Linked DNA regions of Homo sapiens. The protein of the gene in region 1 purifies or fractionates together with the protein of each later gene. This does not show direct contact. Each region holds a gene or a part of one and is shown on either strand. Other genes may lie near its edges.

Evidence for each region.
Region 2: the proteins of POSTN (region 1) and MKS1 purify together in Homo sapiens (affinity purification with mass spectrometry, with the first as the bait; one large-scale study listed by BioGRID). This does not show direct contact.

The regions. Positions count from the first base shown.
Region 1 is NC_000013.11:37,595,771-37,600,131, forward strand, and holds the start of POSTN (periostin isoform 1 precursor), read right to left. Parts: upstream 2,999-4,361; 5' UTR 2,957-2,998; coding exon 2,838-2,956; intron 1,513-2,837; coding exon 1,414-1,512; intron 1-1,413. UniProt on the Homo sapiens protein: Induces cell attachment and spreading and plays a role in cell adhesion. Enhances incorporation of BMP1 in the fibronectin matrix of connective tissues, and subsequent proteolytic activation of lysyl oxidase LOX.
Region 2 is NC_000017.11:58,208,951-58,212,769, reverse strand, and holds part of MKS1 (tectonic-like complex member MKS1), read left to right. Parts: intron 1-335; coding exon 336-392; intron 393-1,747; coding exon 1,748-1,790; intron 1,791-2,045; coding exon 2,046-2,111; intron 2,112-3,819. UniProt on the Homo sapiens protein: Component of the tectonic-like complex, a complex localized at the transition zone of primary cilia and acting as a barrier that prevents diffusion of transmembrane proteins between the cilia and plasma membranes.

The DNA.
Region 1 (4,361 bases):
GGTAAGTCTACAAGAAGTTAAGTGATTCCATATTTAGTATCTTTTTTTTTTTTTTTTTGAGACAGAGTCTCACTCTGTTGCCCACTCGGGAGTGCAGTGGTGCCATCTCGGCTCACTGCAACCTCCACCTCCTAGGTTCAAGCGATTCTCCTGCCTCAGCCTCCCAAATAGGTGCCTGCCACCACATCCGGCTAATTTTTGTATTTTTTTTTACTAGAGATGGGGTTCACCATGTTGGCCAGGCTGGTCTCGAACTCCTGGCCACAAGTGATCCACCTGTCTCAGCCCCCCCAAAGTGCTGGGATTACAGGTGTGAGCCACCACTCCTGGCCCATGTTTAGGATTTATACCAATATTATTAACTTAGAAATAAGTTTCTAATAAATTATTCCACCCGAACTTAGGGTAACTGAATTTTAATGCTGATGTATTAAGCAGGTTCTTCCTGGGGTCTTTTGATTCTCAAGGGATCCTTCACTGAGGGTGGACTTCAAATTAATAGGAAGCAGGAAGGAGCCACTTGCACTGTTTTCTTGACTGGGGATGACACCTAAACCTTTCTGATTGCATTACTTGCCCTATTTATGACTGGTCTCCCTCATTGTAAAATAAAGACTTTGGATCACAGGAGTGGTTCTTGACCTTAATAAGTCCAGAGTGTTTATTACTTTTTTCCACCAATATTTATTGGTAAAATAAACCAGAAGGCATGTCTATTAAGTAATAAATAATGCTTTCAAATTTTAAGCTAATCAGTGAAACATATGTTAAAACATAATCATCCTTTGGGCTATTGAGATATTAACTATAATGATGAGCTTCCGTTATCACCTTGTGGACCTCTGGGGATGGAGCATCTTGAACGGAGAATCACTGGATTAAATAAAGAGATAAAACTCAAGTATTTTTTAACTTTAAACTTTGATGAAAACTCTCCGGTAAACTGGAATACTTTAGACAATTTCCAAATGACTAGAGACAAACATTAACTTTTTGCCTCAGAAACTCTGATATTTTAAATCAGTTTGTTTTTCTGGCCCACTTTTTTATAAAATGAGGAAACTAAGTCACAGAGGTTAAGTGACTTGCCTAAGATAAAAGAGGGCCAAACCAGGAGTAGAAACAACATCATTTACTCACACGGATTCTATACCCAATCCTGAGCCATGTGATCTGCTTCCTTCTGGCCTCCATGTCACATGGATTCAGGAAGAAATCTGAGTTCTAATAGTAATATTGGAGATGCAGGGAGAACTTCTTTATTCACGTATGTATTCCTTTCTTTTCTTTAAATAACTCTCACAATTTTGGTCAGTATTTTCAAGAAGAATGGTGTGTACACCCAGGGGAAGGCATATACATCATGATGTTGTTTTTGGAACTGACATATTATGAAAAAAAAAAGAGACTTACGTTTTCTGTCCACAGATGGACTTTTTATACCAGTTCTTACAAGTGCTGAAGTATTTCTTTTTGGTGCCCAAAATCTGTTGAAGGGCACAGACATTTGGGCTGGAGGATAGAGGGAAAGGAAAAAAGTTAATGTCCTAATAATGACTAGTTTTTCGTATCTAAAGATTGGTTGATAGAAGAAAATGTTGAGATGTGGATTTGATATCCAAAGACATGATTCTAGCCTTGCACAAATCTAATTATTGACACAATCCTACTGAATTGTTGAAAAACCGAAAGTCTACAGGAGGTGGCAGGGAGAGAGAGAAAAATTATACATTTCTGAGAGTAAAATACAAGCTTTTCAAAAAGTTAACCAACTAGGACTATTCAAACAGTATGAACGTAATTTTATTTCTATGTGCCTTATTACTTTTAATGGTAGATAATCTACTGACCCTTTTTAAACCAAGCATGTGCTCATTTGGAGGATGGCCATAACTTCAGGGCTCTCTGGAACAATGAGAGGTCAGAGAGCAAAAGAGACAAGGTTTATTATGTACACAGACACTATACTCTGTAATTTTCTAGGTAAGTAATCACAGAAGTAAATGTGCTAAAATTAACTTTGAAACAATATGGTTGCACAAAGGAGAATTTATCTTTTTGAATGGAAGTAACAGATCAGAACATCCTCTGTCACAATTTTAAGGTTCCCCTTCCCCTCTTAAAGGGACAGAAGTCTTTTTTCACTGTAAGTCAAAGAAGCTTGTGAACATTATGAAAATTCCTGTGAGGCATAGGAAGAAGTGCCAAGATCCGCTTAAAAAATTATAAATGGTTGGATAAGTTACAAAATTATGTGTAATTTTAAAAATGCTTAGTTGTAGTTGCATTAGTTCTATAAAATATAAATTACCTTTGCAAATTTTACAGAATTCAGAGTTTAAAAGTAACTTAAATGCTTCAAAGAATTCAGAGAACTAGTTACATTACCCAGTATTTAACCTTCATATGTAATTTAAATAAAATTTTCTCTAACATCATGTGAGATATTTCAATGCTGTTTGCATACATATGATAGTTCCTAACAATAGATTTTTTAATTTTGAAAACTCAATTTCAGATTTTTGGAAGAAAATAAAAACATAAATAAATGGAATTATAAAAGAATGCCCAGCTAAATTGTGTTAATTAGATTAGAATTATATAACATTTCATAAGAAAGCAATTATATTCAAGGTATTTAGAGAGCAATTAAGTCTTAAAGCTTAAAAGTGCATAGATAAATCACAGAATACTCACATTTTCCTTTTTTTCCTATTACTTTATAATAATTAGGAAAAAAAACCCTGAGGCATATATGAGAAACTTTATGCATACTTGAACATCTAACAAGCTGAGGAAAAAGAAAAATGGTTTATAAAACCAAACCACTCACTTACCCTTGGTCCCGACCCCTGATACGACTATGAGCCAAGATCTTGTCATAATGATTGTTGGCGTTTATAGGGTTAACAATAAGCAGCAATAGTAGAGAAAACATGGGTAAAAAGGGAATCATCTTGAGTCTCTCCGTTGCAGTTAGTCCCCGAAGAGAACTGGCAGTGGGCTTTGGAGAGCTCAGAATTTATATACATGTCAGAGTTGTGGGAGGGAACACTGCATCAACCTGAGAGTCTGAACTCTTTCCAGGAAGCATCGGCAACTTCAAATTGCCAGCTAAGATTTGTTTTGGTTAGTTATATTTAAGGAACACATTGAGCTACTTTTCCTTTTCATTATAAAGAAGGTACTTATTTTTAATCATATGAACAATTGACTCACTGCATGTTTAAGTCTCAGTTTTATTCCTTTGTATCTTAGAGGGTTTTTAAGAAAAATTCTTTTGTTGAGTTTTAAGAGATATTCTGCAATCCTTTCCAGAGTAGAATGTATAATGTCTGTGTGCTCAAGATTATTGTTAGGTGTTATTGCAGTTCACATCAGAACTGAAAGATTATTATTATTATTATTTTTACCAGAAAACAAAGGTAGATGCGAGTCTGACAATCACAAGGGGGTAAAGGCTGTTGATTAAAAACAAACTCTGGATAGATTTAAAACTTGTGTAAGATATGAAATAAGAATTCTAACTTGCTGAAGAACCATGTAGGAGAGTCCATATTTTCCTTGCTATCGTACAAAAAGGAGAGCTACCTCTCATTTCCTTTCTTTTTCAAATATCAAGGAACATATAGAGTTAACATAAATCTACTCTGACAAATTTCTCTAAGGTTTGAAATGAAGCAGAAAGGAAAAACATTTGTGCTTTATTGTTTTTCATGACACACTTTATGTGATGTTGAACATGTCTATGCAGCACATCTACTGATAACCACTGGTGAAAAGCAGCCAATATTGGAAGCAAGTGTTACGAATCTAGAGATAACTAGAACAATTAAATACATATTAGGAAACATGGACATTGCCAAAATGATTCTTCTGATTTTATCAAGAATAACTAAAGCCTTTCAATGTTACACTATGCAATCCCTAGCCAAAGGAATGTGCGTTCTTACTACTCCATGCATATGTCAAATGTTCAGAAAACTTTGGATAAAAGAAATCTGAATATCAGAGGGAAACAATGAGCTGAAATGGTAACCACAATCAGCTTCCTTGAATAAACAAGCTGCACACCATCCTAAAGTGTAATTCCAATCCATTTTGCTACAAGATGCTCCCTCTGTAATGTCATATCCATGTTCTTTTCCCACTGGTGAGGTAGAGAGATTTTGTCAGAATTCTCCTTGTTGTTCTATTGGGAAGGCTTTAGGGGAACTGGACTGAACTAGAGAGGATTCTGAGTATCCTGAGTTATGCTTAAACTCACTATGGGATATTAAAATATTCTACAACTTGCTGCTTAGTTTATTAAGAAAGCACACAGTGAAACCACAAATGCTGAAATATGATCGAGAGGCCAT
Region 2 (3,819 bases), on another chromosome or scaffold:
TGTGCTAGGTACTTTACATACCTTATTTCCTTTAGTCTTTACAACAACCCTTTGAGGTGAACACTTATTACCACCTTATAAGTGGGGAAACCGAGATTGAGGAGCTAAGTAGTCTGCCCAAGGTGGCATAGCTTGTAAGGGCGAGAGTCAGGATTCTGCCCCAGACCAGCTGACTCCAGGGCCTCTGCTTCACGGTAAAATGGCGGTGAGTCAGGTGCTTACGCCTCCAGCTCTTGCTGACCCTTCCCACTATTGCTTTTCTTCTTCCCATTCAGAACTGAACTTTGGTCTAGCTTGGGTTGCATCTTGAGTTTTGGTTTGGTTTGTTTCCTCAGCTTTATGGCCGGCACAAGGAGTATCTCAGCAGCCTCGTAGGCACCGACTTTGAGATGGTGAGTAGCTTGGCTTCCTGCAGCACTGTGAGCTGTGTTTAGCCGGAGCATTCTGACTGTGGATGAGTTACACTACCTCTCTTAAAGGCCCAAAGGTATACTCTACAGTGTGAAAAGGAAGTCAAAGAATAGCACATATAGTCCTTGTTATGTGTTTTGCAACATTGCATGTTGATAGAGAACTGTTAATGCTAAGAAAAAGGTCTGAAAGGCTATGCACATGCTGTGGGTGGCTTTCTCTGGGGAGGGTGGGATTAGATGTGGTAGAAGGGTAGTGGGTGGTGAGAGGGATATATTAGGGATTTTTGCTTTTTATTCCCTAAACTTAGGTAGCTTTGAATTTTTATCAGTTGTAATGTATTTAGGTATTACTTTATAATTAATTTAAAAAATAAATATAAGGATGAAAAATGTCTTCTTCACCTTTCATGTGGATATTTTTTCAAAATACCCCATAGAGAGGCAGGGGTGCCATTTCTGTTTGTCACATATTTTGGCTCTTAAAAAATATAGGCCTGATGCGGTGGCGCATGACTATAATCCCAGCACTTTGTGAGGCCAAGGTGGGAGGATCACTTGAAGCCAGGAGTTTGAGAGCAGCCTGGGCAACATAGTGAGACCACATCCCTACAAAAAAAAAAAAAAAAATTAGCAAGGCATGGTGATACATACCTGTAGTCCCAGCTACTCATGATGCTGAGGCAGCAGGATTGCTTGAGCCTAGAAGTTTGAGTTTGCATTGAGCTATGATCACACCACTGCATTCCAGCCTGGACAACAGATCAAGACCCTGTCTGAAAAAAAAAGAAAGTGGTTTAGTTCAGCTATTCTGTTGTGCTGTTCTTTGTCTTTTCTCATTCTAAGAGTTCTATCTCTAGACCTGGAAACAAGGATAGAATTACTTCCTGGTCTCCCTCTCTTTCTCTGAAAAATTAACCTTCACTATTTCCATATTGCATAAGCAACAGATATTCAGTATTTAAAAGTTAGATAAGACATGCACAAATAATTAAAAAAGAAAACTCCCTGGTTTCTTGACCTCAGCCATCTAAAGGGAAGAGGGCGTTCTGGCTTCCCATTGCACACCACAGGACAGTTGCTGTTGCTTGAATAATTTCCCATAGTGCATTGTCCTCACTGCCATTTAAATTATGTACTTTCCCCCTACATTGTGAATCTTAGGAATGAAGGAAACAGATCTGTGGAGAAGTGTCAGGGTGGGGAGAAAGTGCAGTAGTGACACCCAGGGCCTGACCCCTAGTGGCAGGTCGTCTGCAGATTTGTAGATGGGGCTGGAGGAGAAGTGCCAATTCCCTCCAGGCCTGCTGATCCTTTCCCACTTCTCTTCACCTTAGACTGTCCCAGGTGCCCTCCGGCTCTTTGTAAATGGAGAGGTCGGTAAGTGTCTTGCTAGCATAGATCTCTTGATGCTTAGGCACGTGCCTAGATGGAGCTGTGAATAGTCTCCTCCACTCTGGTAGAGGCCTTGTCTGCTGTACTTGGGAAACTCAGTGGTGAGTCTTTCCTGGAAACGCAGAGGGTTCCTGGCCCTCAAAAGACTTGCTCTCAGGGTGTGTAGGCCCCTCAGGATTGGGTTGGGTGCTAAGGGTGGTAGGAGAAAAAGCTAAAATAGCTTCCTGTTTTCTCTCGTAGTTTCAGCCCAAGGCTATGAGTATGACAATCTCTACGTCCACTTCTTTGTAGAATTGCCAACTGCTCGTAAGTAATATTCTTAAGTCTCTCCTTTTATACCCATTCAGACAGATCTAGAGGCATTTGGTCAGGCTTCCTTTCCCACTCCTCTGCTGAAACTGTTACTGTTCTTTTCAAGGTCATAGATCACATCCACTTTACCAAACCCAGTGGAGACTTCCCTGCTTTCACCTCGCTTGACCTTCCTGAAGCATTTTCCAGAGCCCACTGTGCTGCATGACACACTTCTCTGGCTTCTGGCTCCACACTTCTCTCTCCTATCTCGCTGGTGGCCCCTCATCCTTCTTGGGTGATGCCTTCCCTTCTGTTGATCTTAAACCGTGAGAGTACCCACAGCTAAGCCAAGGCCTTCTGTTACTCTCTGTCTGCAGTCTTCCTGGGCAACGTCATCCATCCTATGGCTTAAATACCATCAATACGTCTCAGACTCCCAGGTTTCTGCCTCTAGCCTTAACCTTTTCCCTGGACTCCAGACTCATATCCAGTTACCTCTTTTGTCATTTCTGTCTAACATGACCAAAAAGAACTCTTGATTCCTCCTCTTCCCTCAAACCTCTCCTCCCTGGTCTTCCCCATCCTAACAGAATGGCAGTGTCATCTACTGAGTTGTTGATGCCAAAAACCTAGGGAACATCCTTGATCCCTCACTTTCCCTAGCTCCCTATAGCCAGCCAATCTGTCAACAGTTCCTGTCCGTTCTGTCTTCAAAAGCTGTTGTGAACCTATTTGTTCTCTCCAGCACCCTACACCAAGCCACCACCATCTCTTGTCTAGGCCAGTGCATTCAACTTCTGATGTATCCCCCTGCTTCCTGCCTTGCTCCCATTTGCCGTTGATTTGCCACAGACACCAAAGCCAAGTTGAGCTTTAAAAAATGTAAACAAGTTATGTCCCTTTTGAGCTGAAAACCCCAACAGCTTCCCCTCCCACTTAGAGTAAAATGTAAACTTGATACCCTGAATGAGCTGGCCCCTGCCTATCTCTTCCATACAACCTTCCAGTCATTCTTCCCAGCCAGGTTCATTCCCACCTTGTAGCCTTTTAAGGGCCGTTTCCTTTGTCTGAAACCCTTTCTGCCATATCTTAGCATGGCTGGTTCTTTCTGAGTTTAGGTCTCAGCCTGTGTCGCCTCTGAGAGGCCTTCTCTTACCACCCAGTCTAAATGAGCCTCCCAATCACTCAGTCCCTTCCCCGTTTTGTTTTTAGTATAGCACTCATCACTACCCAATAGTCTCTTGTTGGTTTGGTTTTTGTCTGTCTCCCTGCTTCCCCCAGAATGTCAGCTCCATGAGAGATGGGGATCTTTTCTATCTAGTTACCAAGATACCCCTAAGATATACTAGCACATAGCAGGCACTCAGTAAATGGTAAATGAATGATTGATTGTGTGAATAAATGAATAAAGAAACTGTCCGCCCCGTCTGGGAAGTGAGGAGCGCCTCTGCCCGGCCGCCCCATCTGGGAGGTGTACCCAACAGCTCCGAAGAGACAGCGACCATTGAGAATGGGCCATGATGACGATGGCGGTTTTGTCAAAAAGAAAAGGGGGAAATGTGGGGAAAAGAAAGAGAGATCAGATTGTTACTGTGTCTGTGTAGAAAGAAGTAGACATAGGAGACTCCATTTTGTTCTGTACTAAGAAAAATTCTTCTGCCTTGGGATGCTGTTAATCTATAACCTTACCCCCAACCCCGTGCTCTCTGAAACATGTGCT